7 linked regions of the Homo sapiens genome follow. The protein of the gene in region 1 purifies or fractionates together with the protein of each later gene. This does not show direct contact. Each region holds a gene or a part of one and is shown in the gene's direction. Other genes may lie near its edges.

Region 1 (4,274 bases):
TCCTGACCTCAGGTGATCCGCCCACCTCGGCCTCCCAAAGTTCTGGGATTACAGGTGTGAGCCACTGCGCCTGGCCTCTCCAATTTTCTTCTGTGAGTTCCTCAGTTCATGTCTCCCTGATAGATTTTGAGTTCTAGGTGTGTCCGTCTCATTCTCCATCTTGTCCTGAGTGCTAAGCAGGGCAAACAGTAGGCACATAATAAGTGAGAGTGGAATTGCATTGGCTCACAGGGTCACCAAAGGAATGGAGATGTGGGGCCTGCAGGCATCACGAAGGAGTCTAGGGGAGCTAGGGAGAAAAGGCTAATCATAGGCCACCCACTCGCCCTCTAGGTACAGCCTGTACACCCGCACCTGGCTCGGGTACCTCTTCTACCGACAGCAGCTGCGCAGGGCTCGGAATCGCTACCCTAAAGGCCACTCGAAAACCCAGCCCCGCCTCTTCAATGGTGAGCTCTGACTGCCCCGGCCAGCATCCCCCATTCTGTGCCCCCACCCTCCCCGCCTGCTCCCCTTCACATACCCCAGCCCCTGGGCTCCCTGCCTGTTACCCCGCCCACAGCCCATCTCTGTCCCCAGGAGTGAAGGTGCTTCCCATCCCTGTCCTCTCGGACAACTACAGCTACCTCATCATCGACACCCAGGCCCAGCTGGCTGTGGCTGTGGACCCTTCAGACCCTCGGGCTGTGCAGGTGAGGGGAGGGCAGGGAGCAGGGGGTGCCTGGAGTCACCTTGGGGACTGGCAGTTTCGCCTTGCTAGAGAGGGCTGACCCTTGTCCGTCTGCCCGTGGGATGTGTCCCATATGCTCCATGTTCACACGTGCACATGCGCACACATAGCCTGGGGAAGGGGGGTACAGGGCATGGCTGGGCAGAAGGGGAGAGCAGGAGTGGGGGATGCAGAGCCAGAGGGCTGGGGGTGTTGGCCCAGGACTCTGGGTCTAGTGAGTTTCCAGGCTGGCTTTCACTCCCATTGGCCCCCTTCAGACCCCCTTTCTTTCTGTCACCTCTGTCTGTCAGTATCTGGGTCTCTCTGTCTTTCCCTCCCATTCCTTATCTCTCTGTGTCTGCCTCTCTCTATGTACAAGTGTCCCTCTGCCTCCATGTGCCCCGTGCTTCACATTCCTGGATCTCTCCCCTCCAGCTCCATCCCTTTCCTCTGCTTCATCTCTCCATGCTCTCCTCTCCTCTCCACCAGCGCCCACACTCCTGGCTCTTGCTGCTTCAAGTGCCTCTTGCATCCTGCTCCCCAGTCTCCAAACCTCCTCTCTCTCGCAGGCTTCCATTGAAAAGGAAGGGGTCACCTTGGTCGCCATTCTGTGTACTCACAAGCACTGGTAAGGGGCTCCCGTCTTCCCTGGCCCACCCTTGTCCCAGCTGGGCTTGCCAGGACTGGGCCCATTGAGGACGGCCGGGGCCAGAGATCAAGAAGTCAGTACGGGCCGGCACCCGCCTTCCTCGTGAAGTCACCTGGACACCAGCAGGGAGGGAGGAGAGGGGACAGTCTCCCACCACTCCATTGATCAAGCTTCTGAAGCCCCAGAGGGCAGGGCAGTCATTTCTCTTTCATTTCATGGGCATGTATTAGATACCTACTGCACACTGGGCATGGACAAAAGTTATGACTCTTCCATCAAGGAAATTCTAAGACCAATAGGGGAGGTAGCCCTGTATCAAAGTATATAACAGCGGAGGCAAGAGGGTTGGGAGTTCAAGCCCAACCTGGGCAACATAGTGAGACCTTGTCTTCAAAAAAGAAGTATGTGATATTTAGGTAACAGTTGGCACAGGGAACAGGGATGGGAGGCCCAGGCACGGTGTGATCAGATCCACTTGGAGAATTGAAAGATGATGACCTGAGCTGAGGGTTCAGGAAGCTCGGCTGGCATTGGCCAGCTTGAGTTGTTGGGGGCGATGTTCTGGGCAAGGGAACAGCTTGAACAAAGGCCTAGAGGTGTGGACAACTTGGCTTAGTCCAGAAGCCACAGCCCCAGCACTTAAAGGCCTGGAGATGCTGTGGTAAAGAAGGGGGCTTAGGTACAGTTGCCCCTCGAAGCCCCCTGCCTGTCTCTGCTGTCCTGCAGGGACCACAGTGGAGGGAACCGTGACCTCAGCCGGCGGCACCGGGACTGTCGGGTGTACGGGAGCCCTCAGGACGGCATCCCCTACCTCACCCAGTAAGTCCCTGACCTAGGCAAGGGATGGCCCTTCCATGGGCCCTTTCCCCCACCCCCAGCCTTCAGTGAAGTGTTTCAGGGGTATCAGCAGGTGGATCTTTGCCAGTGCCCTTCCTGGCCCAATCCCAGCCTATCTGAAGACTGGCACTGCCCATCCCCCAACTGATCCAGCCATAGTCCCCAAAAGAGGAAAGGGGGAGGGTTCGGACCTGAGACCCGAGGCACTGGGGTGACTTCTTTTGTATGGAAGCCCACTCTCTTGTGAATCACCCAGCCCCTTGGGCCTGGGATGGGGACAGGGATCAGCATGGCACAGATCCAATACCTTCTGTCCCCTGCTCCCTTGTTCCCCAGTCCCCTGTGTCATCAAGATGTGGTCAGCGTGGGACGGCTTCAGATCCGGGCCCTGGCTACACCTGGCCACACACAAGGCCATCTGGTCTACCTACTGGATGGGGAGCCCTACAAGGGTCCCTCCTGCCTCTTCTCAGGGGACCTGCTCTTCCTCTCTGGCTGTGGTGAGTTTCCCCGAAAGAGAGAGGAGCTGGGAGAGGAGGGAGAGACAGAAGCCAGGGCAGCCACAGTCCCATGGAGAGCACTGAAGCCTTAGTTTTAGCACAGATGTTGCCGTGGCAGTTACTTCCATCTGTGTTACTCAGATTGGTTTTAATCCTTGAGACTTCCCTTGGGGCACCTTGGGAGGCTGAGGCAGGAGGATCACTTGAGGCTAGGAGTTGGAGACCAGACTGGGCAAAATAGCAAGACTGTCTCTACAAAAAAATTTTAAAATAGGCCAGGCGTGGTGGCTCATGCCTGTAATCCCAGCACTTTGGGAGGCTGAGGTGGGAGGATCACCTGAGGTCAGGAGTTCAAGACCAGCCTGGTCAACATGGTGAAACCCCGTCTCTACTAAAAATACAGAAATTAGCCGGGCATGGTGGTGCATGCCTGTAATCCCAGCTACTAGGGAGGCTGAGACAGGAGAACTGCTTGAACCCGAGAGGTAGAGGTTGCAGCGAGCTGAGATCGCGCCACTGCACTCCAACCTGGAAGACAGAGTGAGACTCTGTCACAAAACAGAAAAAAAAATTTAAATAATATAAATAATATAGGCCAGGAGCAGTGACTCAGGCCTGTAATCCCAGAACTCTGGGAGGCCAAAGCAAGTGGATTGCTTGAGCCCAGGAGTTCAAGACCAGCTTGGGCAACATGGTGAAACCCCGTCTCTACAAAAAATACAAAAATTAGCCAGTGTGGTGGTGAGCCCAGGAATTCAAGGTTGCAGTGAGCTATGATTGTGCCACTGCACTGCAGCCTGGGCAACAATGAGACTCTGTCTCAAAAATAAAAAAGACTTCTGCCAGCTGCGGGACAGAATGGGAGAATGTCTGTAGCTGAGTAAAGCCCTGCAGGGAATTAGTTTCCCCTGGGTGGAGACTGGTTCTCTGATACAGTGACTGGCAGGACTAGGTTATGAAAAGTTAAGAACAGCTAGGTGAGTGGGTGGGTGAGGATCACAAGTCCCAGGCTGCATGAAATCCCAAAGGGCAGCCTAGGCGAAGAAGTGTTCCGTGGGAAAGAGCAGCCCTGCGTCTACCAAGCCTGGGGCCTGCAGCCCGAAGATTCCACAGCCCCTCCCTTCAGGTGTCACTGTGTGCAACGGAGGCCTCGGATGGGCTTGGTCAGGGGGTGACCAGTTGGGCCCAGTTCCCAGTGAGGAGGGAATAGATGCCTGGGGTGGGTCTGGAAAGTGCACAGTCAGGGCTGACGGCCAGCCAGAGCATTACAAGCTGGTTCCCACCTGTCTGGGTGTGCCTTATGCCATATTGTGTTATCCTGGCACCTTGTGACATACCCTCCAACCCCCACCCAGGGCGGACCTTTGAGGGCAATGCAGAGACCATGCTGAGCTCACTGGACACTGTGCTGGGGCTAGGGGATGACACCCTTCTGTGGCCTGGTGAGACACCCCCTTACTACTCCCCATCCTCCAGCCCCACGCTCAGCCTGGGACAAGGGCCTTCCCACCCCCTCACTCCCCTAGAAAGCAGGCCAGCCCAGTTCCTGGCCCAGAAGCGACACAGCTCCACCTCTAGG
Region 2 (4,932 bases), on another chromosome or scaffold:
CTAATTGAATACCCTTTATTTCTTTCTCCTGCCTGTTTGCCCTGGCCAGAACTTCCAACACTATGTTGAATAGGAGTGGTGAGAGAGGGCATCCCTGTCTTGTGCCAGTTTTCAAAGGGAATGCTTCCAGTTTTTGCCCATTCAGTATGATATTGGCTGTGGGTCTGTCATAAATAGCTCTTATTATTTTGAGATACATCCCATCAATACCTAATTTATTGAGAGTTTTTAGCATGAAAGGCTGTTGCCAATTCCAGTTTCTTAAGGTGACCAGATGTTCCATGTTATTTGTGTCATTCCATTTTTTCAAATGACCTATTCTATGTACAGAAAATCTTGAAGTTATAGATAAACCACGAAAAAATGCAAATAATTGGCCTGGTGCAGTGGCTCATGCCTGTAATCCCAGCACTTTGGGGGGCTGAGGCGGGCGGATCACCTGAGGTCAGGAGCTTGAGACCAGCCTGACCAACATGGAGAAACCCTGTCTCTACTAAAAAGACAAAATTACCCGGGCGTGGTGGTGCATGCCTGTAATCCCAGCTACTCGGAAGGCTGAGGCAGGAGAATCGCTTGAACTTGGGAGGTAGAGGTTGCAGTGAGCCGAGATCGCACCACTGCACTCCAGCCTGGCGACAGAGTGAGGCTCTGTCTCAAAAAAAAAAAAAAAAAAAAAAAAAAAAAAAAGAAAAAAAAGAAAAGAAAGAAAAGAAAGAAGAAAAAATCAAAGTCCTTACTTTGCATCATAATCCGCTAGGTGCAAAGGTCACAAAAGTGATTAAGAATAGCTCACAATGTAGTGAGCTGGAACCTGAAAAACGGATTAGGATTTACACAGGCGAGTGCTCAGAAAAAAGGGTAGTTCAGATAATTGGATCAGAAGAGAAGGCAAAAATGCATGACGTGTTTTTGAGAATTAGAGGAGCCCTCAAAATGTATTAGTGTGATATGCAAAATGCTCGATTTAAGATATTATCCATTAATGAATTTGAAAATGGGGACAAAAATAACTTTTCAGCCGTAATAACTATGCTCCCCTCCCTTTGAGTTTCGAATCTGTATCTTAGAGGCCACACTTGAATGTGGAAAAACTTTGTATTAATGTAAACACTATACAGTGATAAGACACGAACAGTGAAATAACCCCTAAGCTCATCTTATAACTGAACAGATAGGTGGTCAGAGAACTTGGATTTGAACCATGCCTATGCCACTAGCTGGTTGTGTGACCTCCAGCAAGTCACTTCTCAAGATACCACGTTTGCCATCATTAAGACGAGTGTGATCCAAAGGTCCACCTAGCCAGGTTTTGTGAGAATGATTTGAAATGCCTGTGAAAGCATTTCCTCTACCACGTCTGAGATGCTTTTGTTATCTCCAGGTTCTTTCAGGTCTTGAAATTTTGTGCATCACGATCCAAAATGTCTTAAGCATCATCACAAATGCTTGACCGTCCCTCATGAGCGGGTGGCGCTTCGCGCTGCCTGGGTCTGTACAACAGGGTCTTGCAGTCGAAAGCCACACACTCCCGGAGTGCAAGAGGGAGAGAAAGCTCTGCTTTCAGCCGGGAAAAAAAAAGGGCGCAAGACCGGACAGGTCCTGCCACAGACGTTCTCCTATGCTCACGCACAGTGGTCGCTCCTGCGGGAATGGGCAGCAGTGACGTGCCCACGTCGGGCGCGCTGACGTTCGCGTAGCGTGCGCCGCTGGCCAGGTGCGCAATAGTGGGGTATGCGTCACGGTCTGCGCCGCCCGCGGGGCCAGGACGGGGCGGAGCTTCCGCCTGGGCTGGGGTTGGCGAGTTCACCCGCGGCGGAGGGTAACTTTGCTGTGCTGTTTTTTGAGCAGTTGTCTGGTCCCTGGAAGTGTAGCATCGAGAGAGTTTTCTAATTACGTTTACAAAATATCTTCCCTTTGGCCATACAAGTGGTGACTGCCATGTCGAACTCGCGGCCCAGGTCCCGCCGAGACGCCGGGGGTGGCGCTGGGGCAGCCGGCCGGGACGAGCTGGTGTCGCGGTCCTTGCAGAGCGCAGAGCACTGTCTGGGCGTCCAGGACTTCGGCACTGCCTATGCCCACTACCTCCTCGTGCTCAGCCTGGCGCCGGAGCTGAAACACGACGTGAAGGTGAGGGTCCTTTTTTCTCACTTGCTGGCAGATCCAACGTCCTCGTAAAAAAAAAAAAAAAAACAGAAAAAAAAAAAAGCGGAGGGGCTAGGGTGCCTGGGTGGGTGGTTGCTGTTAATATTTAGGGCCCTTTTTTCTCACTTGCTGGCCGATCCAACGTCCTCGTAAAAAAAAAGAAAAGAAAAAAGGCGGAGGGGCTAGGGTGCTTGGTTGGGTGTTTGCTATTAATGTTTACTGTTCAACCTTGACATCTTTCGTTTATTCACACCTACGACCAGCCCAGAGGAAAATCCTGCCGTCTTCACCTTCGAAATATGTCCAGAATCTTACCAGTTCTCACCATCTTCCCCTTTACTACCCTGGTTCGAGCTTCAGTCATCTGCCGGCTGTTGCAGTCGGCTCTCAACTGAGCTCTCTCCTGCAGTCTGTGTCAACATAGCTAGCTTTTTGCAACAAAAGTCAAATGTTGTCATTTCTCAGTTTCAAAACTTTCATCTCGTTTAAAATTTTAAAGGCCCTCGAATTGGAAATGAGGTCTCACGTGATCCTCTTCTCCTTATATCTAATTTAAGCATGCCCTGGCTTGAGGGCTTTTGGATTTGTTATATTGTGTGTAGTAGGAATATAGTGGGCCTCTAGTTGAATAAAGTGTGTAATTAGCCTAAAGTGATTATCATTTAATGATGCGTTCTTTAAACTTCAATTATTGGATTATTTGCAACAATTACTCTGTTGAAATGCTGTTCTTTTTTGAAGTACTTTTAGAATCTAAATTACGAAAAATGATTTAACTTAAAATTGCAATTACTTTGCTTCATTTAGACTGAGGGTTTGTCAACCTCAGCACTATTGACATTTTGAATGGGATAATTCTTTGTTATGGGGGAGGGGAGGTGTCCTGTGCATTGCAGTATGTTTGGCAGCATCCTTGATCTCTACCCACTAAATGTCAGTAGCGTCTAGATGTTTGTAGTTCATGTAAACTTAGTGTAAATTTCAGGACCAGCTGTCCTACTTGAGGAGGAGATGATATGTTGAGATACAGTTTGCTTCTCTTGGTAGGCAGCAATAGAAAAATGGATCAACTCAAGTGATCTTTCCTCAGTTACTTGTTTCTTAGTTTCCTCTTCTGTGAAACAGGGACGCAGCCTCTCTTAAAAATGTTTACTGGGTATTAAAAGTATATTTAGACTGGGTGTGCTGGCTCAGGCCTGTAATCCCAGCACTTTGGGAGGCGGAGGCGGGTGGATCACAAGGTCAGGAGTTTGAGACCAGCCTGGCCAATATGGTGAAAACCTGTCTCTACTAAAAATTAAAAAATTAGGCCGGGCGCGGTGGCTCACGCCTGTAATCCCAGCACTTTGGGAGGCAGAGACGGGTGGATCACCTGAGGTCAGTAGTTCGAGACCAGCCTCAACATGGAGAAACCCCGTCTCTACTAAAAGTACAAAATTAGCTGGGCGTGGTGGTGCATGCCTGTAATCACAGCTACTCGAGAGGCTGAGGCAGGAGAATTGCTTGAACCTGGGAGGCAGAGGTTGTGGTGAGCCGAGATCACGCCATTGCGCTCCAGCCTGGGCAACAAGAGCGAAACTCTGTCTCAGAAAAAAAAATAAAAATAAAAAATTAGCTGGGCGTGGTGGCATGTGCCTGTAGTCCCAGCTACTCAGGAGGCTGACGCAGAAGAATTGCTTGAACTCGGGAGGCGGAGGTTGCAGTAAGTCCAGATTGTGCCATTGCACTCCAGCCTGGGCGACAGTGTATGACTCCATCTCAAAAAGAAAAAATAAAAAAGTATATTTAAAATTTGTAGTGCAATGCCTGACATTCAGTAGGGTAAGCAACTAGTCTGTTTCCTGCCGAACAAAGTCTGTGTTTGTTTGTATGGGCCCCCTGTAAAATGCTCATTGCCTGCTACTCTATTCCCCATACCCAAACTCCGGCCACACCAAGCCACTTATCTGTAGACCCTCTGATCCATTTCATATAATCTGTGCGGGGTTTTTTTTTTTTTTATAGAGTCTCACTGTATCACGCAGGCTGGAATGCAGTGGTGCGATCTCGGTTCACTGCAACCTCCACCTCCTGGGTTCAAGCAATTCTCCTGCCTCAGCCTCCTGAGTAGCAGGGATTATAGGTGTTCGCCACCGTGCTTGGCTAATTTTTATATTTTTAGTAGAGATGGGGTTTCACCGTGTTGGCCATGCTGGTCTTCAACTCCTGACCTCAGGTGATCTGCCTGCCTTGGCCTCCCAAAGGGCTGGGATTACAGGCATGAGCCACCGTGCCCGGCCAGAATCTCCTTTCTTATCCTTGTCTCTCTAGTAAACTCCCTCAAGATTCAGTTCCAAATATCAACGCTTTTGTATAAAATATGTGAAGATGATTTAAAATGTTTTAATGACTAAAGCTTTCCCTCTTTCCACAGTATTGCAGCATGGAGAATGGATGGAGGGAGATGCAGTTGGAATTAGAGTGACAGCGTTAAGGCTGTTGCTGTAGTCCAGCAAGTGGTTACAAGGGCCAGATTAGGTTGTAACTGTGGGAATGGAGAGGAGGTAACAGATTTAAAGATATTGAGAGAGCATTGGCTAGGTTTGAAACAGTGTATGTGGAGTTAAGGTACCATTATAAGGTGACTTTGTGGTTTGAGGTTGAGTGGTGTCTTAATCTTATAGCCTGTGTCAGAGGAGTATGATGAGTTCAGTGTAGAACATTTTGAACTTTTCCAAAATTAAATTTCTCTCTATAGGGCCTCTGTGAGGATAAGAACAAGATTTATGTTGCTTCAGTTCTTTGCACAAG
Region 3 (4,274 bases), on another chromosome or scaffold:
AATACCCCTTACAAGAATAGCTGTGATTTAGGAATTAGACACTGTTTCAGGGATCTTGTCCTGCTCTTTGTGGGTTGACTGACATGCTCTGCGTGGGTCTCCACAGTTTTGGGCTCATGAATCAACACATTTAGACCATCTCATGAAAAGAGGCAACAATAAACTTAGACCATCTCAGGAAAACACGTCTCATCCCCCACTTAGACCATCATGTGATGGGGAGGTCAACCGCTACTTAGGTCATCATGGGAAAGGGGGGTTACCTCTCACGTAGACCCTCATGAGAGAGGGGTCATCCCCCACTTAGACCCTCATAGGAGCAAGGGGCCATCCCCTACTTAGACCATCATGGGAGAGAGGGGTCATCCTCACTTAGACCCTCATGGGAGAGAGGAAGCATCCCCCACTGAGACCCTCCTAGGAGAGAGAGGTCATCCCCCTCTGAGACCCTCATGAGAGAGAGGGGGCATCCCCGTCTGAGACCCTCATGAGAGAGAGAGGGCATCCCCCTCTGAGACCATTGTGCGAGACAGGGGTCATCCCCCACTTAGACCCTCATGGGAGAGAGGGGATATCCCCCTCTGAGACCCTCATGGGAGAGAGATCATCCTTGATTTAGACCCTCATAAGAGAGAGGGGCATCCGACACTGAGACCCTTGTGAGAGACAGGGATCATCCCCCTCTGAGACCCTCATAGGAGCAAGGGGTCATCCCCTACTTAGACCATCATGGGAGAGAGGGGTCATCCTCACTTAGACGCTCATGGGAGAGAGGGTCATTCCCCACTGAGACCCTCATGGGAGAGAGGGGGTCATCCCCCTCTGAGACCCACATGGGGGAGAGGGGCATCTCCCTCTGAGACCCTCATGAGAGAGAGGGGTCATCCCTCACTGAGACTGAGACCCTTATGGGAGGGAGGAGTCATTCCCCACTGAGACCCTCATGGGAGAGAGGGGTCATTTTCCTCTGAGACCCTCATGGGAGAGGGGTCATCCCTTACTTAGACCCTCAGGAGAGAGAGGGTCACTCCCCACTGAGACACTCATGAGAGACTGAGACTGAGACCCCCATAGGAGAGAGGGTCATCCGACTCTGAGACCCTCAAAGGAGAGAGGCATCATTCCTCACTCAGATCATTTTGAGATAGGTGATCATCACCATATTTAGACCATATCAAGAAAGCTGGACTTCTCCAGTCACTCCTGCCTGATCCTTGGTTTCCCTTGTTCTCTTTGTCCTGATGGTTCATGAGTGTATCCTTGAACCAGTCCTCTAGTCAAAGAATGAAGTAGAATAACTGGTTTAGGCCTAGGCTACAAGTTCCACTGAAATCCAGAGCTGGGGAAAAATGGCTTCCTGGAAGTAAAATTAAGATGCTTCTTCAAAAGCCAGGGGAATGGATACTCGTCAATCAAAACAATACATGTCAGCAGAGTAGTGAGCTCTTTAGCACAGGGACTGCCGTTTATGCTTCTTTGGTTGCTTCTGCACCTATAGTGGAAGGCAGATGTTCAATAAGTAAATCAATACTTTAACTACTTGTTTGAGTTTTAAATAATATTCATCTTTTTCTATTTATAAGAGTTATATATGTTCACTTTAGAATGTTGCAAATAATGGAACAACATAAAGAAAAAATTAAAATAATCTTCAGTCTCCCTATCCGGAGATAACACTGTTGACATTTTGGAGTCTTTCCCTTTGCAAAAGGTCATACCGCATATGGCATATTGTCATGTGTTTTTTAACTTTAGCATCTTCTTCTACTCTGTCTACTTTGTCATGACACTTCTCTGAAAATCAGTGTTAATGGCTGCAGAATAACTAATAAGGCATATGTATGTATCTTCTCTTTATTTAGTGTTATCTGGTTGGTTGTTTTTGTTAGTGAGGAATGGCGTGGCCAGGGAGTAGAAAGGAATGAATTGGATGAAGGGTTGGCTTGGGGAAAGGCAGAAAGAACTTCAGAAACTGGCAGTCCTGGGGGCTTGCAAGCTAGGCTGTGGTGGGATGAAATAGAATTGCAGAACAGGAGAGCTGGAAGCAACCAAGCCCTACTTTTAGTATTTTATATCTATCAGGGGCCTTATACAGAATGAATGTGGAAAATGGAGGAGCGGGGAAAGAAACTAGAGGTACGAAGGCCAAGTAGGGGAAGAGGGAACATCTATCCAACCAGCACCCTTCTCTCTATCTACCCATCTGCTTTTTCTTCCAGCCACAGGTGATTACTTCACAGCCAAACTTCTTAAAAAGTGTAGAAATTGTATCTGTGTTCTCACCTTCTACTCTGTCTTCATCTTTTTGTCATCTGCCTTTCACCTCCATCATCCCACCAACTCACAGTTACTGAAGAACAGTAACATACAGCCATTCGGCTGGCAGACCATTCTCATTCCCATCTCAGAGGTCCTCCTGGTGACACTGGACACAACTGGGCACCTGCTTTACCTTGACTTCTATGATCACACCCTACCAGCTCCATCTTGGTTCTTGAGCCATTCTGTCTCCTTTGCTAGTGCCAGATTCTGTCCCCAGCTGTAAATATTTGAGTTTCTCAAGGGTTAGCTTTGAGCCCTCATCTCTTACTCCCAGCTCTTCTGGAGTTGAACACACACATACCCACAGCTTCAGCTCCATTTCTGAGAATGTGATGCCCGTGTTTATATCACTAGTCGACACCAGTGCTCTGAAACGCACACCCCGCAACTTAGCTACCTGCTGAACATCTCCACCTGAATGGCTTGCAGGCACTCAGCTCAACAAGGCTCAAAGTGACTGTGTGTTCTTCCCCACCTCTACCTCACTGCCCAACCTCACTCACCTCTGGTGTTTCTAAATGATCAGTTGATGTCATCACCTGTCCAGTTGCATTGACCTGAAATCTAGAGTCATCCTTGATACATTTCTGTAATTTGCCATCTTACCTAGTCCGTCACCCAAGCTCTGCTCATTTTTACCTCCTAAATATATGTCAAGCCTGTTCACTTCTTTCTACCTCTGTTGCCAGCTCTCCAGAATAAGCTGCCTTCTCTTTTTATCTGAACTTCTGCAACACCCTCTTAACTGCTCCTTCCTTGTCTGCTCTAGTTCTTTTTCCCAAGTAGTGTCACCTTGGAAACCCCAATCTTTTCATGACATGCCATGTTAAAACACTGAATAGCATCCCATTAGGATAAAAACAAAAGTCCTTGGTGTGTTCTGTCCAGCCGTACATGGCCTGGCTCCTACCTGCCCCACAGCCTTGTGCTATGCCACCCTCATGAGACAGAGGGTCATCCCCCTCTGAGACCCTCATGAGAGAGAGGGGTCCTTGCTCTCTGAATTTCAGCCACACTGATCTTCTTTCAGTTACTCAGCTACACTGTGCTCCCTCTTACTTCATTAATTCAGCAAATATTTAGTGAGTACCTACTATGTGCCAGGTACTGTTCCAAGTGTTAGGGATAACATGGTGAGCAAAACATGCAAAAAGATCCAAGAGTTTACAGATTCTTGGAGAGATGACAGCCAGTAATCAAGATAAATAAATAAAATACACATGACAGCAAAGAGAGTGATAAGAGCTAAGAAAGGGAAAACATAAAATAGTGAAGAAGATAGGAGGTACTTGGAATAAAGAGGGAGTTGCCATTTAAATAGGGTATTCACGGAAAACCTTACTAAAAGGGAGGCTCCTAGTTGGGAAAACATCTGATGGCTTTGGGAAAGAGCAAGGAGCCAGGGGGCTGGAGCGACGGGAGAGAAGTAGGAAGTGAGGACCAGATCATGAAAGTCCTTGTTGGGCTCTCTAAGGATGAGATGGGGAGTCATTTGGGGTGGAGGAAATGCTCTCATCTGGGTCTTGACAGGGTCTCTCAGGATACTGTGTTAAGCAGAGACTGCAGCTTCAGGGGCAAGCCCAAAAGCTAAAAGCCTAGAACAGAGGCTGGTACAGTCATCCAAGTGAGAGAAGGTGACAGCTTGGACCAAAGTGGCAGGACAGAGTCAGGGAAGATGTTGAGATTCTCCAAGCATTTCAAACTTATTATTCCCTCCACTCGGAGTGACCTCTCCTTATCTACTTTAAATAAATCATTTGTGGTCTCATTACCCCCAGCAGGAAGCCCTGACCTCACAGTCCACAGTAGGACCTCCTGTTCCACTTTTGCCTAATTCCCTGTATTTTCCTTCCTGGCGTTTATCATGCTTTGAAATGAGAATGTGCACTCCATGAATTCATGGATCGTGTCTGTTCTCACCACTGGGTCCCTAGCCCAGGACCTGGTTCAGT
Region 4 (4,274 bases), on another chromosome or scaffold:
CAGCCTCCTGAGTAGCTGAGACTGCGGGGATATGTCACTACACTTGGCCAATTTTTATATTTTTTGTTGAGACAGGATCTTGCCATGTTGCTCAAGCTGGTCTCAAACTCCTAGACTCAAGCATTCCACCTGCCTTGGCCTCCCAAAGTGCTGGGATTACAGGAATGAGCCACTGCACCTGGCCAAGTTATTTTTGTAATGCACAGTAAAATAAAATCACAACCACTAAAACAAAATAGTGTTGGTCTCCATCCCACCACCTAACATCCTCACGCTGGCTCCCCTGTGGGAAATCCTCCAGTAGGATTGCAGTAACCTTTGGGTTAAGGAATGACTGTCATATGAGTCAAAGTCTGCTTTATCCCTTGGCTCTGAGAGCAAAGCTCAGGAATCATTTCAGGTGAAACCTGTCCCCATTTCTTCCTTAGGTCTCCATTTTGTCAGCAATGGAGCTCATCTGGAACCTGTGTGAGATTCTTTTTATTGAAGTGGCCCCAGGTAGGCATGGAATATCTCACCATAATCTCATAGGTGTCCCCTTCCATCTTCTGCTCTTTCCTCATCTTTCCTGTGCATGGTGATGAGTGTTTTATTCCTGAGAATGTTCTTTCCATCATTATAACCACGGGAAGTCGTTAGAAAACACCCAAAGAAACCTGACCGTTTTGTCAGGTGCTGCAAAAAGAATCATGCAGAGTGCCTCCAAGAAACCTAAACCCTGACAAGTACTGAGAAATATTAAACTAGTGTGTGAAAGGGGGTGTCAGTGTTAACATCATGGACTGGCCAAGCTTAAGAAAGTTTTATGAATGTGGGGTAGGATTAGGTGGTGAGAGGCAAAGTCACATTGGGAATTCTGTCATGAATCATTGGGACAGGGCAACTCTGTGTGTTAACTCTGCCAATGGGTATGAACTCTGCCAATGGGAATTTTTCTGTTGATCTTTTTTTTTTTTTGAGACAGAGTTTCACTCTTGTTGCCCAGGCTGGAGTGCAATGGCGTGATCTCAGCTCACCGCAACCTCCACCTCCTGGGTTCAAGCGATTCTCCTGCCTCAACCTCCTGAGTAGCTGGGATTACAGACATGCGCTGCCACGCCTGGCTAATTTTGTATTTTTAGTGGAGATGAGGTTTCTCCATGTTGGTCAGGCTGGTCTCGAACTCCCAACCTCAGGTAATCTGCCTGCCTCGGTCTCCCAAAGTGCAGGGATTCCAGGTGTGAGCCACCGTGCCCAGCCTTCTGTTGATCTTGAATTAAACTGTGGTCAGTATAGTGTCATGGCCTGTATGAGCTCTCTGTGGATCTGCTGCAGCTTTTTTGCATTTCTTTTAAGGATTTATGTTTGCTATTTTCCATAAATGAGTAGTAACCTCTGTGTAGCCCTAGCATTTTATTCATACTCTCACTAAAGAAGTGAGGAACTTGAAATTAGAGTTGGTTGTTCAGAGGCCTCCCTTCTCCAGTGGATTTTTGAGGAGGTTACAGTTGGCTCTTTGTATCTGCAGGTTCTACATCATGGATACGGAGTGCTGGCTGTACTCTGCCATTTTATTTCATTTTATTTTTATTGATTGATTGAGACAAGTTCTCACTCTGTCACTTAGGCTGGAGTGTGGTGGTACAATCACAGCTATTGCAGTCTGGACCTCCCAGGCTCAAGCGATCCTCCTGTCTCAGCCTCCTGAGTAGCTGGGACTACAGGCACGTGCCACCATGCTAGGCTAATTTTTTGTGTGTATATGCTGGGGGAGGGGAGACAGGGTCTTGCTCTGTCACCCATGCTGGAGTACAGTGGCGTGATCACAGCTCAGAAGCCTCGACTTCCTGGGCTCAAGCAATCCTCCTGCCCAGCCTCCCAAGTAGCTGGGACCACAGGCCTGCACCACCACGCCCGGCTAATTTTTGTATTTTTTGTGGAGAGGAAATTTCGCTATGTTGCCCGGGCTGTTCTTGAACTCTTGGGCTCAAGCAGTCTGCCCATCTTGGCCTCGCAAAATGCTGGGATTATAGGCGTGAGCCACCATTCCTGGCTCGGCTAATTTTTTATTTTTTTTTGTAGAGATGGGGTCTCCCTATGTTGCCCAGCCTAGTGTCAAACTCCTGGGCTCAAGCGATCTGCCTGCCTCAGCCTCCCAAAGTGCTGGGATTACAGACATGAACTACCATGCCCGGCCATATGTTTTGTTTTGTTTTGTTTTTTGAGACAGAGTCTCACTCCGTCACCCAGGCTGGAGTGCAGTTGTGCGATCTTGGCTCACTGCAACCTCTGCCTCCTGGGTTCAAGCAATTCTGCCTTAGCCACCTGAGTAGCTGGAATTACAGGCATGCGCCACCACGCCCGGCTAATTTTTGTATTTTTAGTAGAGACAGGGTTTCACCATGTTGTCCAGGCTGGTCTTGAACTCCTGAGCTTAGATGATCCACCTGCCTTAGCCTCCGAAAGTGCTGGGATTCCAGGTGTGCACCACCAGCCCCCTGGCCCTATGTTTTTATCATCATTGCATACCTGGCTGCTTGCTATCTAGTCATTGTTGGTTCCTAAACGGCCATTACTTATGTAGCTATTAAGTATTTGTGAAGAATCTGGAGTGTGGGGTAGTGAGGTCTGCATTCCATGTTCACCCCTTTCTGGGGTCAGTTAAAGATGGAGCTGCCTGGCACAGAAGTAATATTTGGTGAAAGTGCATTTGCTTTTTCCTAGCACAGTCTGTCATTCAGGACCATGTGTGTGACTGCTTAAAAGGGATAAACCTATGTAGTCAGCTTGTCTGCCTTAAAGTTCTCTGTTCCTTGGATAAAGGAACTTGCTGCAGATGAAGCTGAGGCTTTTGTGTGTGATGAGAGTCTCTCCTCCCAGCTGGCCCTCTCCTCCTCCATCTCCTTGACTGGGTCCGGCTCCATGTGTGCGAGGTGGACAGTTTGTCGGCAGATGTTCTGGGCAGTGAGAATCCAAGCAAACATGACAGCTTCTGGAACTTGGTAAGACAGGCCGGGCCCCCACCTCCCACCATGTGTCCTACTGTCCCTGGTGCTGCCGGGTGGGTCTGAGGACACCCACTGAGCCTCCAGCAGTAGGCTGGCTTTTGGAGTCTGTTACTATGGAGACTCTTTTGGATCTTTTCTTCCCTGCTCTATGGGAGAGTCTAAAACCGAGGTACCATGTAAGAAAAATAATGCTTTGAAGACTTTTCCAGGGTAAAAGGAAATTTGATTTCTTTGTGGATCTAAGGAAGAGAAGACACAAAAAGGAATACAAAACCGTTTTTTTTTTTTTTTTTTTGAGACAGGGTCTCGGCTGGGTGCGGTGGCTCATGCCTGTAATTCCAGCCAGCACTTTGGGAGGCCAAGTCAGGAATCTCTTGAGCCCAGGAGTTTGAGATTAGCCTGGGCAACAAAGTGAGACCCTCCATCTCAAAACAAATTAATAAATAAAAATATAAAAGAGAAAAGATAGTCCGACTCTGTTCCCCAGGCTGTTGTGCAGTGGCCTGATCTTGCTCACTGCAACCTCCGCCTCCTGTGCGGTCCTACCACCTCAGCCTCTCAAGTAGCTGGGACCACAAGTGCCAACCACCATGCCTGGGTAATGATATAAAACCAATTGACAGGGGCTGGGGTGCATACAGGGTTGGATGTAAATGAGCTTGCACATTACTTTGGATCATCAGTTTCGAAGTCAGCATGTCGTATATGTGTATATGGATGTATTTTCTATGTGTTAGGTATTTCCATTCACCTCTGCTGACTGACCCAATTGGGAGGTGGCAGGGAGGAGATCGCTAGTTGACTGGGCTAATGGAAAGTCAACTAAACTTATAAAGCCTGAAATTGGGAACAGATTGTGAGGACAAAAAAAAAGAAAAGAAAAGAAAACCTGGAATTCGGCCCGGCACGGTGGCTCACAGGAAGTAGTGGGCCAAATGTTTGAGTCTCTGATTGATTCGCTAAGGTTTGTTGTTGTCGTTTAGAGACAGGGTTTCGCTTTGCGGCCTGGGCGGGAGTGCAGTGATGCGATCATGGCACAATGCACCTTTGATTTCCTGGGCTCAAGCAATCCTCCCACCTCAGCCTCCTGAGTGGCTGGGACTACAGGCGCACACCACTACGCCTGGCTAGTTTTATTTTTTGTAGAGGTGAGGTTTCACTGTATTACCCAGGCTGGTCTTGAACTCCTGGGCTCAAGCAATCCTTCCACCTTGGCCTCCCAAAGTGTTGGAACTGCAAGTGTGAGCCACCATTCCTGGTCATTCACTGAGTATTTATTGAGTCCCT
Region 5 (3,875 bases), on another chromosome or scaffold:
CAAGTAGCTGGGATTACAGGCGCCCACCACCATGCCCGGCTAATTTTTTTTGTATTTTTAGTAGAAACAAGGTTTCACCATCTTGGCCAGGCTGGTCTTGAACTCCTGACCTCGTGATCCACCTGCATTGGCCTCCCAAAGTGCTGGGATTACAGACATGAGCCACTGTGCCCGGCCATATGTTTTTCTTAAGAGAGAAAGGAAAGAGCTGGAAGGCACGGGGTGGGAGGGCCTGAAGAAGAGCATAGGTTGGGTGGGGTGGGGCATGGACTGATTTGGCCTCTTTGTCTTGATGCCAGGCCAGACCTGAGGGAGTGGGTATGCTCTTGGGGAGTACACAGGCAGTACCATGCTGTCATTATCTTTGCTTTTGTCTTGGGGGTTTAGCCAAAGATTTCATCCGGCACTTGATGGAGAAGGACCCAGAGAAAAGATTCACCTGTGAGCAGGCCTTGCAGCACCCATGGTGAGAATTCACACAACCTGTGAGCTGGGGCGGGATTTGGGGCCCTCAGGTCTGCTTCTGCCCTCATAGGCAACCCACCACATAACCCCATCCTAGGATTGCAGGAGATACAGCTCTAGATAAGAATATCCACCAGTCGGTGAGTGAGCAGATCAAGAAGAACTTTGCCAAGAGCAAGTGGAAGGTGAGTCCATATCCCTAGTTCTGGTCCCAGCCTCCCCAGGACTCCTCCCCATCCCTACCCAGGCTCAGCTTGCACAGCACCTGGCATCACACTGGGCACACAGTAACTGCTTAGGGATCCTTACTGAAGGACTTCATTCATTCACTCTTTCATTCAACAAACACTCCCAACACCTTCTCTATTCCAGAGAGGGTCCCTCACCTCCAAGTCTAGAGGAAGAAGTCTGTAATTCTTCAGGAGGCATCTGATCCAGCCTATGGGGTCCGAGAAAGGTCATAAAAGTGGTGATGACCTGACAGAGCTGTCAGTTAAGTAGGAATTAGTGAGGCATAGCGGAATAATGTCTATAGCCATTCCGGGAAGTGCAAGTGCTAAGCCTGGCCAGACTGGAGGGGCTGAGGGGACTGAGAGGCAGGAGCCCAATTTAGAGAAGCAGGTAAGGGGCCAGGCCTCTTAGGGCCTCATATGCCACAGAGGAGCACCAACTTGATCCTGAGGGCACTGAGGAGCCCCAGAAGAATCTTAGGCAAGTATTTGCTGCATAGAAAGGGCTCTCAGGGCCAGGCATGGTGGCTCACGCCTGTAATCCCAGCACTTTGGGAGGCCGAGGTGGTTGGATCACCTGAGGTCAGGAGTTCAAGACCATCCTGGCCAACATGGCAAAACCCTGTCTCTACTAAAAATAAAAGAATTAGCCACACATGGTGGTGCGTGCCTGTAATCCCAGCTACTTGGGAAGCTGAGGCAGGAGAATTACTTGAACCTCGGAGATGGGGGTTGCAGTGAGCTGAGATCGCGCCACTGCACTCCAGCCTGGGCAACAAAGTGAGACTCCACCTCAAAAAAAAAAGAAAGAGCTCTCAGGATGCAGAGAATGGCATGGAGTAAAGACTGGGTGACGCATTAGGAGGCTGTGGCAGAGATACAGGCAGGAGATGGTAAGGGTTTGGAACCACAGTAGCAGCAACAGGGGGCAGAGAACAGTGGTTGATCCAGGAGTCATTTAGGAGGTGAAACTGACAAGACATGACGATGCAATGGATGTTGGGGGAAAGAGATGTCAAGGGCTGGCCCAAGACTGTGGCTGGGAACAGAATGGATGGTGGTGGTACCATGACTGAGATGGTTATCACAGGGACAGAAACATGTTTTGGGGGGATGGTTTTAGTTTTAGACATGGTGAATTTGAGGGGTGTGTGGGACACCTAGGTGGAGATATTGAATAGAGACACACCTGAGCAAGTTACTTCAGCTTTCTGTGCCTCAGTTTCCTCCTTTGAAAATGATAATAGTACCTACCTCAAAGACTTTCATGAAGATTAAATGAATTACTACGTAAAGTGCTTAGAACAGTGCCTGACATACAGTGCTATAGTGTTTGCTATTACATATTAATATGAATTATAGTTATGTTTCTATTTATATATATAGATACACATACATCTAACATATGTGCGTGTGTGTGTGTAAATATATAATAAAGCCTTGTAGAGGTTTTTGGGGGGCTTTAGGGGAATTAATAAAATAACTCCTGAATGAAAATAACAGAACAATTGCAAGAATCCCACTGCGCCCCTGCCCCATGACTTGACTCTCTCAAAAGTCCTTTCTCCCCTCTCCCTTCAATGCCTTCAATGCCAGCAAGCCTTCAATGCCACGGCTGTGGTGCGGCACATGAGGAAACTGCAGCTGGGCACCAGCCAGGAGGGGCAGGGGCAGACGGCGAGCCATGGGGAGCTGCTGACACCAGTGGCTGGGGGTGAGGAGCGGGCTCTGCAGAAGGGCATGGGTGGTCCACAAAGGTGCACCCGGGCTGGAGTGGAGGGCCTGCCCCTGCGGCCACCTCTGTTCTGTCTTCCCATGCAGGGCCGGCAGCTGGCTGTTGCTGTCGAGACTGCTGCGTGGAGCCGGGCACAGAACTGTCCCCCACACTGCCCCACCAGCTCTAGGGCCCTGGACCTCGGGTCATGATCCTCTGCGTGGGAGGGCTTGGGGGCAGCCTGCTCCCCTTCCCTCCCTGAACCGGGAGTTTCTCTGCCCTGTCCCCTCCTCACCTGCTTCCCTACCACTCCTCACTGCATTTTCCATACAAATGTTTCTATTTTATTGTTCCTTCTTGTAATAAAGGGAAGATAAAACCATCCTTAGCGCTGTCTCCCTCAATATCCCCCACCCCATCTTGTTGTGCAAACTGACTGCTTGATTTGGGGGTGCCTGGCCTTTGAGGTAGTCACAGGGAGGCCCCTCCCCAACATGAGACTGGGTGGGGATGGGGAGAGAGAAGTGGGGAATGGAGGGGAAGGTGCTTGGGGAATTTCTTTGTCCAGGGTGCCCCATCTAGCCTTCCGGCCCTTTGGAACCCTTTCTGCGCTTTGCTGGTGGCTCCTGAGCATGGCGGGATTGGCGCAGGTCGGCACTGAACAGCACCTGTAGGAGGGTGGAGTCTGTGTGGGGAGGAGGGTACACTGGGGTCAGGGCTGGTGAGACTAGTGACAGTGTTGGGAGGTGGAAGAGTCCTTGGGGAACAGGGCCGAAGGCAATGAGAATCCACTGGGGTTGGGACAGGGGTGGCTGGAGAGTCCTTTAGGGCCACCTGGGGCGGTGGTGGAAGAGTCCACTGGGTCTGGGCTGGAGGAGAGGAAACCTAGGGAGGACACCTAGGTACACTCACCGCTTGGGCCCAGCCAGCATAAGGTCCCCACAGGCTCCGGAAAAAGTTTCCTAAATCAGAAGTGATGAGACTAAGTTATCTGACCCCTTCTGTGACCCATCAACAGAAGTAGGGTCTGAGGGAGAGGTGACTAAGAGAGAGAGAAGTTTCTACCATCCCAGCCCACTGCCAGCCCCTGCAGCCCACTTTCCTCACCCAGTTCCTTGTTGGTCTGGGGGCTCGGTCCCTTCGCCTGGGACGTGGTAGGGTGCCAGCTGTAGTCACGTTGGGCAATGTGCCACATATGGACATCCACGGGCACAGCCTGGGGCTTGTCTAGGGCCATCAGGCAGATGCAGTCAGCCACCTTTGACAGACACAGAATGAGCCCTTGTGGAAGAAGGGCAGCATGTGGCCAGCATCTTGCTTATAGCCCCAAAGCCGGCTGCTTTCTCCTTCACTCTGGGGTTACTGTTGTTCTATATTCTCAATCAACAGATACTATCTATGAATACACTTTTTTTTTGTTTGTTTTTGAGATGGAGTCTCGCTCTGTTGCCTAGGCTGGAGTGCAC
Region 6 (4,274 bases), on another chromosome or scaffold:
TCTTCCTTATGGTGAGCTCTGCAATTACCTAGCGGTGTAACAGTATACTACTTGTCCTTTGACTGATGTACTTTTTAAGTGTTTTGTTGATTTCCTTTGGAGCAGTCAGGTCTTTAATTTCTTCATATCTTCCCTCCTTCTTAGAGCTTCCTCCACCCTCCATCACACAACAATAGTTATGAGAAAAGAAAAGAAGGAATTTCTTTTTAAAAAATATTTGTGGTTGCTTGTTGGTAAGGCAGTCATTTCATCTTCGGATCTCCAGTTTAGTGGCCACTGTTTAAGATATGGAGCCATAGAGTTATCTGAACCCAGATAGCTGAAAGTTGCCTATTTGTTCCTCTTTTATATGTATAGGCAGTGGTTTGACTTTCATGAGCATTTTTTATTTGGGTTTTAAAGAAATAATTTGACTTAATTTATTGTTAGAAACAAAATGATGGCAGTGCCAGCAGCACTGTGCTAGGAATAAAATTTTGTTTCTTTATTAGCTACTTTTCTTTTCTGATGCTACATTTCAAAGTCCATCATTTAAAAAATGCCTTGTGAGAGAATCTGTAAGTCTGCCTATTAATTATGACCCCTCAAAATATTCAGAAAAGTAAATGTTTTAAAATGTATTTTTTTTCCCTCCTATGTCAAATGACTCAACCTCAGCCCCTTTTGAAAGGCCAAGGGGCTTATTAGCTACTATTGTATATGCAGATCGAGTGCTGTTCCTGACTGTGTAAGAATATAAGATCCTGTTTTGGATTTCATATCCACTCTAGCATTACTGTTACATCCTGTTATGTTAGAATTGAGAAGGGATAACTGTTATTAAAGATCTTATCTCAAACATTTATAATAAACAGGAGGTGTATAGCAGCAAAATAACACATTTAATTTTTATTTTAAACATAGAAAATTTGTAGATTTATTAGAACTGACTAAGTCATAAAACTCACTAAATAGAAAAAAGACTGGATAATTTGTCAGATGACTAGAAATTAGATGTCTGTTTTGGAAACATTTTGTTAAATTCTGTCATTACTAAGAAATGTGAAGAGACTTGCTTCTAGAGTTTAATAAGCAAGAACTAAAAACATAGTATTACCCAACCATTCATAATAATCTTGTTAAAATATGTTCATATGTGTGTGTTTGTAATTATGGTTAGCATGATTAATGATCTTTATCAAATAACTAATATAGCTTACATTTTTAACATCTTATATTGCAGTATTACTAAGCTGTGAATGAAGGTGGAAATGATTTCAAAATAGGACATATTTTCTGTATGTAAATATTATATACTGATGACTCCTAATGTCTGTTTTGGCTTTCTTTAATTTTTATGATAATAAAGCCAGCTATCTTGTAATGGTTTTCTACTATAATTCTAGAGAAGAATTTAGGTTCATTCCAGTTTAATCCTTTTGGCTTTACCTGGAATAAAAATACACTTTATATTTGTTTTATTTACGTTATATACAGTGTATTTAGTATTTGTTAATTTTGTATTTTATGTTTCATGTAGTTTTGAAGCTCCTTTAAAATAGTTACTAAATATTTGCTAATGTATTAATGGAAAACTGTTAAAATATTTTGGGTTTTTTTTTTTTTTGGTAAGGAACATTTGTGTTAGTAATTGTTCATGTAGTAATTGATACAGTGTGTTAGTATTTTCTACAAATCCTCTTTTTTATTATAGATCTCCACAGGATAAAAGAACACTTCTTGTGAATTGTCAGAATAAGAGTCTTTCACAGTCTTTTGAAAATCTTCTTGATGAGCCAGCATATGGTTTAATACAAGTATGTTCCTTAAATCTATCCTGTATTATTCTGACTGCATTATTTTATATACCCTGTACTTCTCATCTTCTCAGAGAGTATGCAAAATGAGACAGGTACATATATATACATAGATATGTGTGTGTGTGTGTGTAATCTTTTTGGAACTATTCTCTAATTTTACAGAAACAATAATAAGTTTTCATGTTATTTGCAAGACTCAGAGGCTTCCTTGGTTCTTAGTTACTCATAAGGAAATTTCTCAGTTTATTATAATACTAAAATTAGACATCAGTAGATTTGTATCATAACTTTTATTGATTAGGCCAGGGATCACAGAGTAGGCCAGTTTGAATTCATTAATGATCGGTTTAGGCAAAAATCTGGTTTGAATTTAAGTAGATTGTTTTGACGTCATGACAATCTTATTCCCCTAAGAATATTTGAGTACTGTTCTTACATTTGGCTAAAAATGTGCACTTAATAATAGGCAGAAGTAAATTTAATTATCACTCAGATGACTATGTAAAGTAATGAGATGGTTTATTCATTTATTTATTTATTCACTTATTCATTTAACAAATATGTGAGTGCTTGCTGTGTCCCAGCTATTCTTTTCCTGGTTTTGAAGATGTAAAGATTAATAAGATATAGAGGGAACTTTAGGAAAGAGGATGAGAGAGAGAACTAAACACTGTTTAAAATGGACAATAAAAGGATAATTTTACTTATTGTGAAAAGAATTATTTAATAAATAACTGTTTTTGCTAAATATGAATGAGCAAATAGTTTGGGCTTCAGAAGTTACCCTGGCACTTAACAGTAGAAAAACCTTTTGCTGTTTTCCAGGGTAGCACTGTCCCAGAATAAATTATTCTTGTTGGCATGATTTACTATTCATATAATTAGATTAAAATGTCAACTAATATTTAAATATGAGTTTTTAAATTTAGCCATCAAATATTTTGTGTCAGAATAGCATGGTGGTACACACTTCAAGAAATATTTTTTTTGTATGAAGGCAGGACTGCTAGACAGAAGAAAGCTGTTGTGGGCCATTCACCACTGGAAAGTAAGCACTGCGTATGTTTTCTGATGTATGCAGATTGAGTGAAGCCTGCAAATCATTTGTTTATCTGCAATTCAATCAGTAGCATTAACTTGTCATTTATTATGCTATTTTAACCAAATGAAATGATTGGCTTAGAAAATTTAAATTTTTCTTTGAAGAAAGAAAATACAAATTTAAGATAATCTTAGAACACTCTGTTTTAGTCCTGATTTCTTTTCTTTTAAAAAGCTTTGCTTTTTTGCTCATGATGGAGTATTCGTTTTTCTTTATTTGAGTTAATAATGCTAATATTTTTCTTCCTACTGCATAGAAAATTAAAAAGGACCCTTATACGGCAACTATGATAGGATTTTCCAAAGTCACAAACTACATTTTTGACAGTTTGAGAGGCAGCGATCCCTCTACACATCAACGACCACCTTCAGAAATGGCAGATTTTCTTAGTGATGCTATTCCAGGTCTAAAGATAAATCAACAAGAAGAACCAGGATTTGAAGTCATCACAAGAGTGAGTAAAGATTAGTATTAATATAGCTCTTATATTTTAACAGGAGAACATGTACTATAGAAATAGAAACTTAATTTTGGTGATATCTGCTTCTTTCCATAATCTGTTCTTAACAACTTTTTGCTAGTATATCTGACAATGAGTGCTTGTCCTGCCACTAAGTTCTTCATTTGTTCTCTATCTTATACTCTTTCTTGATTAATGTTGGATCTCTCTTCTTTGATTACCTTTTGATAATGAAGTTTGTTTCATTGGGTGCATAGCAGAGTGAGGAGCGAACCTTTCCTATTACCTCTTAGTTCTGTTCCTTACTTGCATGTTTTCTCATAGGCATCAGAGACAGCTAGTCAGGATACTACTTTTAGGGCTTTTATTCTCATGTAATACTTCCTTTTTTAAGTAAGATGGGTTTTGGCCTGAATTATGGCAGATCTTTATATGTGCTCAGTAAGATTTAAATTTGCTACAATTCTAGGCTTGTACATAGTTAGAAAACTATAAATATCTAAATTTTAGTGCTTAATTAAAGGGTTTATCTTGCAAATACTATTTTAAAATTACCAACATCTGTTAATTGAATAAAACACTATAGAAAATGCCGAGTGAAGCTAGTGGGTCATGAATCAATTCTGAGAAATACAAACTTTAGAAGAAAAGCTAATTTTTAGAATATGATTAATGGAATAATTATATATTCTCTCTTTTTAAATAATACAGCATATCATTTGGTTTGAAGGTTTCTTACAGAATTTACATGTTGAATGTTCTATACTTACATAATTGAACCCAAAATAGTAAAGAGCTTTCTTTTAATAACAAATATTTTTAGTCTGTGGGGTTTTCTGTTTCTGAATTTATAACCCAGTTTGTTGTGTGTTTAGTAGAAGGGAAATACATGTAATGCTAACTATTATAGTTA
Region 7 (3,190 bases), about 160 Mb from region 1:
CCAGGAACTTGATTGCTTGCTAGTAATTAAGGGGTTTGCCTTTTAGGCTGTCAAAACAAACATTAGTAACCAGAACCTGGGAGACAGCTTCTCAGCAAGGAAAAGTCACAGGTTTGGGGACGGTTTAGGGGAGGGGAAAAGGTTGATATAATAATGCAGGGTTGCTCCTCGGGGTGTCGATCTAGAAACAATTTTACAGAACTTCAGTTGTAAACTCAATAACATTACTTGTATAATGGTGCTGGCCATGTTGTTGTTTTAATCAGTTGCCTCTTTTTAAAAGAAATTTTTATGGAAAACACATTCAACTATCATTAAAAAAATGAAGTTAAGCTGTTGGGACCATTTCTTTAAGATTTAACAAAAGTTCAGCCTTTTAGGTAGTTGAAGGGAAGTACACCCCGTATTCAGCACATGTTGAGTTTTCTACACCAGGAATTTTCAATATGTATATTGATGAAAACAAGCTCAATTCAAACTGGACAGTTTTAAGATAATGTTAAAATCAGCACTTTTAGAGACAACGAAGGCCAAGAATCAGTACAGTAGTATTCCAAAATGATTTTCTCTAGAAATTTGAAAGTAGATCGAACAGAATGTTGTCAACCGCCTACCAGTACAATCTTTTGTGGAAGATACTTTGAAATCACTTTCTACTTTGTTAGTAAAGTTCTGTCTTTCCAGAGCTGCAAGTTTTAAAGTGTTACTTATACAGACCAACCAAGAATAGTGCTGAATTAAGTGGCATTTAGTATCTAGAAGCCATTTTGATCCAAGAAGCTACTTAAGTGTCAAAGTCAGCATGCAGCACATGTAGCTTTTCTGTAAACAAGGGTGTGATATGAAAGCTGCTTTTTTAAGAAGAGTAAAAGCACATTCCATATACGTAAGTGAATTTTAAAAATAAATTGAGGCAAACAGTTAAGTTTTATTTTTAGAGCAACAAGTTAACTGTAAATATTTTAATGTTAGTTTGCTCATCTATGATCTGAGATCATGCCGAAGTGAGAAAAATCTCCCCAAAATACAATTTAATGCATTGGGAAAAAAAAACTTTAACAGTAATTCCAGCCACAATCTTTAGATCACCCTTGTAATGTGTTACGGGTCCATTTTTCCTGGAATCGTTTAATCTAAAGCAGTTTCCCCTGTTTTGGAGATTTTGTAGTTAATTTTAATTTTGGCTATTGTTTGGAAAAGATGAGCTGTCTGTGTAGATATGAAGTATAGTTTTTTCCATAAAACAGATGTTTATTTTGTATTAAAAAATACCACTGTACTTGTTTTACACCATTTGTATACATGTGGTGATATTAATGCTAAACTGTAAAATTCAGGAATTAAAATGTGACCCTGTAATTCCATAATTGATGTTTGTGTTTGGTTTGTTGTAAATATAAATTAACTCCATTTTGAGATATGTCAATTTTACAGTATCTTTTAAAAGCCAATAAAATTATCCATAAATATTTATTATAAACTGCTAGATCATACCCCAATTTTAATGAAATAATTCTAAACAAATGCGGGTCAATGGCACTTTATCAGTGACTACTTATAGAAGGTAAGCCTTGGGGAAATCATAGCATCACAGTATGGAGCTTTTCTCACCTTTTCAATTAAAGGTGTACATATAGTAAGAAAGAAAGACCTTCCACCTCATAAGGCAGGTGACTCAGGATATTTTAAACTAAGATCAGTAAAGTTCCCATCCACTTTCTTTGAATCATCAAATTTTATCGAGACCCATCTCTCAGCTTTTAGTAAATTTCTTCTTAAAATAAGCCCACATGTAAAACACTTTCCTAGTTACTTTTTGTTTGTTTGTTTGAGTCTCGCTCTGTTGCCCAGGCTGGAGTGTAGTTGCACGATTTCGGCTTATTGCAACATCCGCCACCTGGGTTCAAGCAATTCTCTGCCTCAGCCTGAGTAGCTGGGATTACAGGTGCCCGTCACCATGCCAGGCTAATTTTTGTATTTTCAGTAGAGACGGGGTTTCACCATCTTGGCCAGGCTGGTCTTAAACTCCTGACCTCACAATCCACCCGCCTCAGCCTCCCTATCTCTGTATCTTATGAAGACTTCCTTTTTCTTTCTGAAGAGCTGCCATAAGTCTTAAACATTTAAATCATCAGAACCTTTTCTTGTAGCAGAAATGTGAATGTTTTCTTGAAGTACAGGTTACGGTTTTCATGGTACAAGTGCTTACCTACGACGATAAGAGAACAAGGCTTAAAATATCCCTCAAAAGAACAATTGTGAGAATTCCATGTTAGCGGCTGTCTTTAAACGACTACCCTCAGGCAGATCTGGGTTTTTATATCTTTATCTTCATTCAGTGAAGCAAGCCAAAAGCCCACATTTGTATGCCTTAGGTCTTCTTAAAATGGTATCTGTAAACATGTGTCCAATATAAAAACTATTTTTAATAAAAAGTTACATGAAACAGATTTCTGTGTTTTAATCACTAGCATTTCCTCTTAGCCATCTAGTGATGAAAATATAACAAATGTAAATACTGGTTTTCCTGCAGGGGAAAGTTTGGAATTGTGTAACTGAAATGAGTAAATCCTGTTACACTAATTTTGGTATCCTTTTTTAAAAGTTTATAATGGTAGACTTAAGGAGATAAAATGTGATTATAAGTTAAATCTCAGGAGTATCCTGTACTTAGAAAAGGGTGGACGTGGGATATTACAAGACTGGAAGTTTTTTGTTTGTTTGTTTGTTTTTTGGAGATGGAGTCTTGCTCTGTTGTTGCCCAGGCTGGAGTGCAGTGGTGTGATTTCGCTCACTGCAACTTCCACCTCCCAGGTTGAAGCGAGTCTCCAGCCTCAGCCACCCGAGTAGCTGGCATTACAGGCATGCACCACCACGCCCAGCTAATTTTTGTATTTTAGTAGAGATGGGGTTTCACCATGTTGGTCGGGCTGGTCTTGAACTCCTGACCTCAAGTGATCTGCACCCCCTCAGCCTCCCAAAATGTTGGGATTACAGGCATGAGCCACCATGCCTGGCCTTTTTTATTTTATTTTTTTTATATGGAGTCTTGCTCTGTCACCCAGGCTGGAATGCAGTGGCGTGAGCTCGGGTTCAATGCAACCTCCGCCTCCCGGGTTCAAGCGATTCTCCTGCTGCAGCCTTCCAAGTAGCTGGGATTACAGTTACCCGCCACTACACCTGGCTAATT

Evidence for each region.
Region 2: the proteins of PNKD (region 1) and PRMT9 purify together in Homo sapiens (affinity purification with mass spectrometry; 3 studies listed by BioGRID and IntAct, with this or other methods). This does not show direct contact.
Region 3: the proteins of PNKD (region 1) and ARFGEF3 purify together in Homo sapiens (affinity purification with mass spectrometry; 2 studies listed by BioGRID and IntAct, with this or other methods). This does not show direct contact.
Region 4: the proteins of PNKD (region 1) and NUP85 purify together in Homo sapiens (affinity purification with mass spectrometry; 2 studies listed by BioGRID and IntAct, with this or other methods). This does not show direct contact.
Region 5: the proteins of PNKD (region 1) and CAMK1 purify together in Homo sapiens (affinity purification with mass spectrometry; 2 studies listed by BioGRID and IntAct, with this or other methods). This does not show direct contact.
Region 6: the proteins of PNKD (region 1) and TBC1D15 purify together in Homo sapiens (affinity purification with mass spectrometry; 2 studies listed by BioGRID and IntAct, with this or other methods). This does not show direct contact.
Region 7: the proteins of PNKD (region 1) and PPP4R3B purify together in Homo sapiens (affinity purification with mass spectrometry; 2 studies listed by BioGRID and IntAct, with this or other methods). This does not show direct contact.

What each region holds. Positions count from the first base shown.
Region 1 is NC_000002.12:218,339,450-218,343,723, forward strand, and holds part of PNKD (probable thioesterase PNKD isoform 1 precursor), read left to right. Parts: intron 1-333; coding exon 334-449; intron 450-579; coding exon 580-692; intron 693-1,278; coding exon 1,279-1,337; intron 1,338-2,084; coding exon 2,085-2,177; intron 2,178-2,461; exon of another isoform or gene 2,462-2,531; coding exon 2,532-2,695; intron 2,696-4,050; coding exon 4,051-4,137; intron 4,138-4,274. UniProt on the Homo sapiens protein: Probable thioesterase that may play a role in cellular detoxification processes; it likely acts on a yet-unknown alpha-hydroxythioester substrate.
Region 2 is NC_000004.12:147,680,994-147,685,925, reverse strand, and holds the start of PRMT9 (protein arginine N-methyltransferase 9), read left to right. Parts: upstream 1-1,762; 5' UTR 1,763-1,938; coding exon 1,939-2,127; intron 2,128-4,932. UniProt on the Homo sapiens protein: Arginine methyltransferase that can both catalyze the formation of omega-N monomethylarginine (MMA) and symmetrical dimethylarginine (sDMA). Specifically mediates the symmetrical dimethylation of SF3B2.
Region 3 is NC_000006.12:138,164,677-138,168,950, forward strand, and holds part of ARFGEF3 (brefeldin A-inhibited guanine nucleotide-exchange protein 3), read left to right. Parts: intron 1-4,274. UniProt on the Homo sapiens protein: Participates in the regulation of systemic glucose homeostasis, where it negatively regulates insulin granule biogenesis in pancreatic islet beta cells. Also regulates glucagon granule production in pancreatic alpha cells.
Region 4 is NC_000017.11:75,215,326-75,219,599, forward strand, and holds part of NUP85 (nuclear pore complex protein Nup85), read left to right. Parts: intron 1-428; coding exon 429-498; intron 499-2,859; coding exon 2,860-2,981; intron 2,982-4,274. UniProt on the Homo sapiens protein: Essential component of the nuclear pore complex (NPC) that seems to be required for NPC assembly and maintenance. As part of the NPC Nup107-160 subcomplex plays a role in RNA export and in tethering NUP96/Nup98 and NUP153 to the nucleus.
Region 5 is NC_000003.12:9,756,263-9,760,137, reverse strand, and holds the end of CAMK1 (calcium/calmodulin-dependent protein kinase type 1), read left to right. Parts: intron 1-387; coding exon 388-466; intron 467-562; coding exon 563-650; intron 651-851; coding exon of another isoform or gene 852-951; intron 952-2,291; coding exon 2,292-2,409; coding exon of another isoform or gene 2,410-2,516; coding exon 2,517-2,599; coding exon of another isoform or gene 2,600-2,621; 3' UTR 2,622-2,791; downstream 2,792-3,875. Other genes in the region: OGG1 (N-glycosylase/DNA lyase), read right to left, coding at 3,322-3,371, 3,517-3,667. UniProt on the Homo sapiens protein: Calcium/calmodulin-dependent protein kinase that operates in the calcium-triggered CaMKK-CaMK1 signaling cascade and, upon calcium influx, regulates transcription activators activity, cell cycle, hormone production, cell differentiation, actin filament organization and neurite outgrowth.
Region 6 is NC_000012.12:71,891,529-71,895,802, forward strand, and holds part of TBC1D15 (TBC1 domain family member 15), read left to right. Parts: intron 1-1,222; exon of another isoform or gene 1,223-1,277; intron 1,278-1,693; coding exon 1,694-1,796; exon of another isoform or gene 1,797-1,891; intron 1,892-2,269; exon of another isoform or gene 2,270-2,271; intron 2,272-2,796; coding exon of another isoform or gene 2,797-2,847; intron 2,848-3,157; coding exon 3,158-3,355; intron 3,356-4,274. UniProt on the Homo sapiens protein: Acts as a GTPase activating protein for RAB7A. Does not act on RAB4, RAB5 or RAB6.
Region 7 is NC_000002.12:55,546,552-55,549,741, reverse strand, and holds the end of PPP4R3B (serine/threonine-protein phosphatase 4 regulatory subunit 3B), read left to right. Parts: 3' UTR 1-2,450; downstream 2,451-3,190. UniProt on the Homo sapiens protein: Regulatory subunit of serine/threonine-protein phosphatase 4 (PP4). May regulate the activity of PPP4C at centrosomal microtubule organizing centers.